Regions from separate parts of the Homo sapiens genome. Here region 2 is reported to be linked to region 1. The links are microRNA targets in miRTarBase. Many come from high-throughput screens and were not tested one by one. Region 1 holds a microRNA gene; the other region holds the end of a gene's coding sequence.

Region 1 (4,278 bases):
CGTCTCAAAAAAAAAGAAATTATTCTCTTAGCAGTTGCACTGGATATTACAAGTTAAATTCTAATTTATACCAATCTAATTTGGATTAATACCAACTTAATTACAAAAATTTTAAAAAATATTTTTGCCTGGAGGGGTGGCTCAAGCCTGTAATCCCAACACTTTGGGAAGCTGAGGCAGAAGGATTGCTTGAGCCTAGGGATTTGAGACATGAGCAACATAGCGAGACCCTGACTCTACAAAAAAAAATTAAAAAATTAGCCAGGCATGGTGGCACCTGCCTGTAGTCCTAGCTACTTGGAAGTCAGGATGATTGCTTGAGCCCAGGAGTTCAAGGCTGCAGTGAGCCATGATCGTGCCACTGCACTCTAGCCTGGGCAACAGAGCAAAGTTCTTTTGAGACGGGCAGATCAGGAGGTCAGGAGATAGAGACCATCCTGGCTAACATGGTGAAACCCCATCTCTACTAAAAATACAAAAAATTAGCCAGACGTGGTGGCGGGTGCCTGTAGTCCCAGCTACTCAGGAGGCTCAGGCAGGAGAATGGCATGAACCTGAGAGGTGGAGCTTGCAGTGAGCCAAGATCGCGCCACTGCACTCCAGCCTGGGTGACAAAGTGAGACTCCGTCTCAAATAAATAAATAAATAAATAAATGCTCCTTTTTTTTTATTTTTTGAGATGTAGTTTCACTTTTGTTGCGCATGCTGGAGTGCAATACTGTGGTCTCGGCTCACTGCAACCTCTGCCTCCTGGGTTCAAGTGATTCTCCTGCCTCAGCTTCCCGAGTAGCTGGGATTACAGGCGCACACCAACACACCTAGCTAATTTTTGTATTTTTGTAGAGATGGGGTTTCACCATGTTGGCCAGGCTGGTCTCAAACTCCTAACCTCAGGTGATCAGCCTGCCTCGGCCTCCCAAAGTGCTGGGATTACAGGCATGAGCCACTACACCCAGCCAAAAAATGCTGTTCTTAAATAGCTCCATTCTCCCCATCCTTCTTTGAACTGTTTTTGTTATACAAATTACAGCTTTATTCATTGTACACCCATTCACACAGATTTATAATTGTTTTATGCAGTTGCCTCTTAGGAGAGAAAGATTTACAAACAAAAATATGTTTATACTGTCTATTATTTTCCTATATAGTTACTTTAACTGGCTCTTTATTTCTTCACATGAATTCAAGTTTCTGCTTATGATCCTTTCATTTTAGCCTGAAGGACTATTTAGTATTTTGTAGGTCTGCTAGCAACAAATTGCCTCAATTCTTCTTTATCTAGACATATCTTAATTTCACCTTTCTTTCTGAAGAATAGTTTGGTGGGCATAGAATTCTTGGTTGACTGTCATTTTCTTTTTTTATTTTTCTTTTATTTATTCATTTATTTATGAGACCAGGTCTCACTCTGTCACCCAGGTTGGAGTGCAGTGGCATGATTGTGGCTCACTGCAGCCTCGACCTCCTGGGCTCAAGTGATCCTCCCACCTCAGCCTTCTGAGTAGCTAGGACTACAGGCACACCCCACCATGTTCAGCTAAATTTGTTTTTGTATTTTTGGTAGAGACAGGTTTTCACCATGTTGCCCAGGCTGGTCTTGAACTCCTGAGCTCAAGCAGTCCACCCTCCTCCACCTCCCAAAGTGCTGGGATTATAGGTGTGAGCCACCGTGCCTGGCCACCTCTCATTTTCTTTCAGCATTTTGACTGTCATCCCACTGCTTCCAGCTTCCATGACTCCTGATGGAGGAATCACATGAATTCATCAGAATTCATGGAGGCTAGAAGCAGTATGAGGATCATTTACATGTGATATTCACTTCTCCCTTTCTGCTTTTTGGATTCTCTCTTTGCCTTTGTCTTTTGGCAATTTTATAATGATTTGTCTATGTGTGGCTCTATTAGAATGCATCCTATTGTAAGTTTTTTGAACTTACTGGATGAAGTTTTTCATCAAACTTGGGGAATTTCAGCCATTATTTTTCCAAGTATTCTCCTCTCCTTGAGGGATTCCCTTTATGTATATGTTGATGCCCTTGACAGTGTCCCACACTTCTCTGTGGCTATATTCATTTTTTTCCCAATTTGAATTGAGTTTTATCTTATTGGTTATGTGAGGCATTTTAACCCATTTTGTTCTTTTTTCTTCATAATTATTTTTCTTTCTTTTCCTCAAACTGGTTACTATTCATTGGTCTATCTTCAAGCACATTTGACTCTTTCTTCTGTCTGCTCAAATCTTATATGAGCCCCTCCAGGGAATTTTTCATTCTAGGTCATTGTAATTTTCAACTTTAGAATTTTTATTCAGGTTCTTGGAAAATTTTTTCTGTCTCTTTATTGATATTCGCTATTTGGTGAGACATCATTCTCATACTTGCCTTTAGTTCTTTGTTCTTTACATACAGTTTCCTTCAGTTCTTTTTTTTTTTTTTTTTTTTTTTTGAGATGGAGTCTTACTCTGTTACCCAGGCTGGAGTGCAGTGGCATGATCTCGGCTCACTGCAACCTCTGCCTCCTGGATTCAAGCAACTATCCTATCTCAGCCTCCCAAGTAGCTGGGATTACAGGCTTGTGCCATCAAGCCCCACTAATTTTTGTAGTTTTAGTAAAGACAGGATTTCACCATGTTGGTCAGGCTGGTCTTGAACTCCTGACCACAAGTGATCCACCTGCCTCAGCCTCCCAAAGTGTTAGGATTACAGGAGTGAGCCACCACACCCGGCCCAGTTCTTTAAACATAAGTAAAATAGCTGATTTAAAATGTCTTGTAAGTCCAACATCTGGGCTTCCTCAGTGACAGATTCCATTGACTGACTTTTATCCTATATGCGAGCCATACTTTCTTTTCCTTTGTACGTGCCATGACTATTTTGTTGAAAATTGAATATTTTGAATAATATAATGTGGCAACTCTGGAAATCAGATTCTCACCTCTATCCAAGGTTTGTTGCTGTTATTTGTTGTTGTTGCCATGTGTTAGTTTAGTGACTTCTGAAATAATCCTGTAAAGTATGCATTTTTTGTCATGTATGGCCATTGATCTGGTCCTACTCATTATCTTATTATCAGCTAATGATTGGAAAAAAATTTCCTTAAATGGCTGGAACCAATAAATCTCCCAGTCTTTGACAACAAAAACTTTGTGTGTGCACTGAGGCATGTCTCTACTCAACCAGGCAGTTTAAAGCTACACTTTAGTGGTCACTGGATGTTTGCACAGACCCACAAGATTAGTTAGAGATGAGATGTTGGGACTTTCTCTGGTCTTTTCTGAGCATGCAGAAAGCCTTACACTGGCTGCAAGGCCTTCTGTATTTCCAGTAACATGTTAGAGCTTTTCAAAACCTCCTATGGACATCTCATTGCCTAACTTACTTTTAAGCTCTTGGTTAACCTATTGTTTTTCACAACTGTTACACACTGTGCAGCAGCCATGATGTTAAACAGTTGCCTCTGATTGTTTTCAACAAATTTTCCCAGGGAAAAGGCTGTTTGCACCAAGAGAGGTTTGAGTATGGTCAAATAAAAGCTTTGCAAATGGGTCTTTCAGAGAACCACCCAGACAGGTCAAATAATGACAATTCTCTGGTAATGGTGCATTGAAGGCATTCCAACACCAGTCTTCTCCCTCCAGATGCTGCCAGGCTGCTGGTTTTCACTATGATTGTGGGTGGTTGTTTTTCATTACTACCATGGAACTGGGAATGCTGCAGATGGGTCCAGAGCAAGATAAAATGCCATGAAACTCACTATTCTTACTGAGAAGCAGCAATTTTTCTTCAATAGATGTTCCTTGGATTGCTGCATGGTTTGATTTTTTTTTTTTTAATTCCCAGAATTCTGGAAAACTTGATTCTGACCATTTTTGCCAGTGTTCTTGTTGCTTTCGTGGAGGAAATTTTAAAGATTCTTACTTCTCCATTTTCACTGTCCAAGCAAAAGGGCTCACTTTTGAATGAAGACACTGAGACCTGAGGGGAGCAACTTATCAAAGTTCTTATAACTATAAATGGGTGCAAATGCATATTTTTAAAGATTGAGGTAAAATTCATATGACATAAAATGAACCATTTTAAAGTGAACAAATTGGTAGCATTTAGTACATTTACAATGTTATAAAACTGCCACCTTTATTACTTTCAAAACATTTTTGTCACTCCAGAATAAAACCTCATGTCCATTAAGCAGTTAACTTCCCATTCCCTCCTCCCCACAGTTCCTGGCAACTAGCAATAGACTTTCTGTTTTTACAGATTTACTATTCTGTATATTTCAC
Region 2 (4,278 bases), not on the chromosome of region 1:
GAGGTTTGTGATTTGTTGTTGGAGGTGGTGTGATCTCTGAGATTTGTGATTTGGTGTTGGAGGTGGTGTGATCTGTGAGATTTGTGATTTGGTGTTGGAGGTGGTGGTGTGCTCTGTGAGGCTTGCAGGTGTTCTTTGGTTGTTTGAGGTGCGGTACTTTGTGAGGGGAGCTCGACGGCTTTCAGTGTAGGGAACCCGAGGGCAGAACACTATATTGTGGGGAGTTTTTGAGGAAGGAAAAAGGGGTAATTTTTTCTCTTTAACGTCTACACTGTAGTGCTTCCTGCTTTCCTTTTTATTATGGAAATCATGTGTGTTGGTTATTGCTCATTCCTGATGCTGTGTTAATGTAGCTGTCATAGGAGTGCACTCATATCACCAGTGCTGTGTGTGCGTTCATACTCCTAACAGTAACTACTGTCCTGCCGGCAGAGGTGTTTCACCTGCAGCTCAAATTACTCTTTTTTCACTGGAATGAAAAGCAAATTACTTTAGAAATTCCTTGTCTCTTTCTACCAGAAAGTCTTTATTTAAATAGGAATCATTTTGTGCTCTGGAAGGTCTGAGGCTGCTTGTGTTTTCTTTGTCTGCATAACAGGAGCTCTGCAGGAGTCTGCAGGTCACCCGGAGCAGGACGGGGAGGAGCTGAGCCGGACCCTCCACCTGGAGGAGGTGGTGCAGGAGGCCGCCGGCGAGTGGCAGGCCCTCACCCACGTCTTCTGATGCGAGTTGGAAGTACACCTTTAAGAATGTTTCTGAAGTTACGTTTTGTGAAGAGCAAAGCACTTGGAATCTCCGTTTTAAAGCTTCAAGTGTTAAAAATGCTACAATAGTTTTTTATCTATAAAATTATCTAAAGAATCATTGTCTTTCAGAGACTCATAGGAAAAAAAAACTAGGAAAAGTGTCACCGCATTGTTCTCTTTTGTCTACAAATCACTGAACTCAGGTACTACTGTAGGCAGTTTCCTCCTCAGTCTCCTCCGTGGCTAGTGTGTCTAGTTCACGAAGCAATTAACTGGGTCTTACTATCATTGTAGTGTGATTTCTTTGTATTAGCAAAGACAAAAACGCTAACATTGAAAAAGTATGTCAGATTTTCCTTCATGTTTCTGGTTATAAGAAGCATAGCTTACAAAGCAAGCGTAAGATTGAGGCATGAAGTTCAGAAAAAAAAGTGTTACAACACACAGGGAAGTTTTTTCCACTCTTTTCTCTGTGCATTTTGAAAATTAGTCAAAATGGACTCTTTTCAGTCTACCATAAGTTAATATAACTGATACCTTGAGAGATGGCTGGACCAATTCTCTCCATGACAAATGTTTAATCATTAGTTACAAGAATGCAGTATCTGGGGCGTCAACATGGGGACTCGAGTAAACCTGACCCACCAATAAGGATTCAGCTGTCCACACGGGCTGGCGACACACTTACCGCATCAATCTGTGTTCAGGTCCAGGGTTACATAATTGCAGAAGCACAAGCCATACATCGCAGGTAGGAAACCACAGAACCGTCTGCAAGGAGCAAGCAACGGTGGCCCTGTCCACCCCAGCAAATAAGAAGCATATCTGTAGCTTAAGGCCACGAATCCGTAAAAACCCCATGACTTTCTCTTCGTGCATAAACAGATGTATTTTTGATTTCAGGGAATTCTTTAGTATCGTCAATGGTGCCACATAAAACATGTCCCAAACCAAATCCCACCCGTGCTGGGCAGAGTGCGTGCACGCCATTCCTACAGCATTCCAAAGATGGAAGGTTCTTTACTTCATGTTAATTTTTCCTTTGAAATTATTTATATGTTCTATATATAAATACATATGTACATAGATATATGGGCCTCTGTGTGGCTGAACAGTATATTTTGTAAATATAAGTACTAGTCCTAATTGCAGAAAGAGCGTCAGTTTCACCTCCCCACGAGCACTTCAGATCAGTATTGTATTCATTTTATTCATAAATGGATATCTTTTTCATTGTCATATAAAGCTGGGTTTTATTTTTTTTTCCTGAAAAATAATTGCCTTTATTTTCTCTCGTTGCCTCCTTGGTTTCAGAAGAGAGTAGTTTTATTATAAATATTGTATGGACTTTGTATATTAAGAGAGGAGCTCATTTCAGATTCCTAAAGAAATAGACATTTTACTGTTATTTTGAAAGGGCATCTTTTGATTTTTTTGTTGTTGTTGTTCACTTTTGGCATATGTATATAAGTAATATTGACGGTGATATGAAAACTTTTGTTATGTGAAGATATTTAAGTCAGAAAATTGTTAAATAATATTACTTCTTTTCCAAACTGCTTTGTGTATTGTATATTTTTTTAAGAAAAAGAAAAGCCTTATTTGACTTATGCTTGTGATACTGGACTTCTTACCAATCCGGAGGTTTCCTTCCTTGAATGTCAGTGTGTAAACCTGGCTGTAGCCGCATATGCAGAATAACTGTAATTGTGCTAGAGTTTTAAAGGTTCTGCTTTTAATGCACTTTTTATTTTATAATTTTGTATTGAAATATTTTAGAAATGTTGATTAATTTTGGTGAAAAAATATCCCCAAAGTGGAAATTATTGGAATTTTAAACTTTTGTTCTTGCTGGGTTATTTATTTTGATTTTAGCATTAAATGTCATCTCAGGACATCTCTAAAAGGGGTTGTTTAATTCCTAATTGTATAGAAAGCTAGTTTGGTGAATTGTATTGGTTAATTGACTGTTTAAGGCCTTAACAGGTGAATCTAGAGCCTACTTTTATTTTGGTTAAAGAAAAAGAAAATATCAATAATTCAATTTTGTGTCTTTTCTCAATTTATTAGCAAACACAAGACATTTTATGTATTATTTCGATTTACTTCCTAATTATAAAAGCTGCTTTTTTGCAGAACATTCCTTGAAAATATAAGGTTTTGAAAAGACATAATTTTACTTGAATCTTTGTGGGGTACAGGTTGATCTTTATATTTTACTGGTTGTTTTAAAAATTCTAGAAAAGAGATTTCTAGGCCTCATGTATAACCAGGGTTTTGAGGATAAAGAACTGTATTTTTAGAACTATCTCATCATAGCATATCTGCTTTGGAATAACTATAAATAAAAGATGAAGTTAGGAAATGTGATTAATTTTTTTCGTTTGAAAATATTTAAGATAAAACAGTTTGGCATGTAAATTAATTTCAAGTTCAGATATTTTTAAGAGAAAACTTTAGTGGTATTTTCCTTTACCTCTGTGAAGTTCAGAGGCGTTTACCCCTGCAGTGTCCACTGGAAAGGCTTCAGACTTTCAAAATCAGGGCATGGCTCCGCGACAGCGAGCCGTGGGCGTCAGCACAGTGCCCTGTGCATGTGTCAGAACTGTTCCTGTTCCCTTTCATTTGCTGCTTTATTCAACGGCACCCAGTCATTGAGGAACCTTTTGAAAGTTCCTAAGTGTTTTGATCCTGCTTGTGTGCTCAAGTAACCATGAAGCACTGAAGCTGAAAGAATGAATTGCCTTTGCAAAGATACCAAACGTGAAGGTGGGGTGCAGGTACTGAGGAAGCAGGAGGCATGTAGCATGTGTGGAGTCCCACCTGCTAGATAATGCCCAAGCGGCTGCGTTTCCATAGAATGGCAATAGATGAAAATGAAGACATGTTTTCAAACATGCAGATTGAAATGCTACCCCACCCCCATCAAGCTCTACTTTTTCCCCTTTGAAAAACTTGAGGCACTTAGAAAGTATCTAAATAGAGGAAATGCTATGACATGGCATCTGACAGCTTGCAGCCAGGTCAGTGGGAGGCTCATCAAATGCCACTCTCCTCTTCCTGACAGTGTTCTGCTGGTGGGACATGAACATCAGTGCTTGTCTGGCACTTAACTAGGGGATGTTTCCTTCGTGCATATTTTCTACTCCCCTGTTGTAATATTTTAAGGAAACTTGATCTTTGAAATTATAGCTAGTGTTCTGTGTCTTCCTTTGAACTCATATCACATTTATTACAAGAGACGCATGTGTTAGCACAGCTACACAATTTTTAGAAGTAGAAGTGGATTTCTTGTCTTGCTGTGGGTTTTCCTCATTTTAGAAGAATATTTGTAACTCATTAAGATACACATTTTAACATGAAATGACCATCACACAGATTTATGTTTGGAAATATTCAAGATAAAATAGTTTGGCATGTAAATCAATTTCAAGATTTATGTACATAAGATTTTTAAAGGAAATAGGTAAGATATATAGAACTGCTTTCTAGTGTATATTAAGGCTATCTCATGCCTGCTTCTTACATTTTT

The links. Region 1 holds the annotated microRNA hsa-miR-2115-5p (AGCUUCCAUGACUCCUGAUGGA, at 1,726-1,747, shown strand). A microRNA usually pairs through its seed, bases 2 to 8, with sites in the 3' UTR of a target mRNA and lowers its output. Matches are read on the target gene's strand: a 7mer-m8 pairs with bases 2 to 8, a 7mer-A1 pairs with bases 2 to 7 and ends in A, and an 8mer does both.
Region 2: miRTarBase lists ZNF236 as a target of hsa-miR-2115-5p. Seed matches in the 3' UTR shown: 7mer-A1 at 3,534-3,540.

Annotation. Positions count from the first base shown.
Region 1 is chr3:48,313,887-48,318,164 of GRCh38, reverse strand. MIR2115 (microRNA 2115) reads left to right here and starts at 1,706; the gene lies at 1,706-1,805. All of the region lies in intron 6 of SPINK8 (serine peptidase inhibitor Kazal type 8 (putative)), which reads left to right.
Region 2 is chr18:76,967,617-76,971,894 of GRCh38, forward strand. ZNF236 (zinc finger protein 236) reads left to right here. Exons shown (of 31, transcript NM_001306089.2): 31 at 599-4,278. The coding sequence ends at 723. Among named protein-coding and RNA genes, the nearest start is that of MBP-AS1, 11 kb to the right of the region's middle.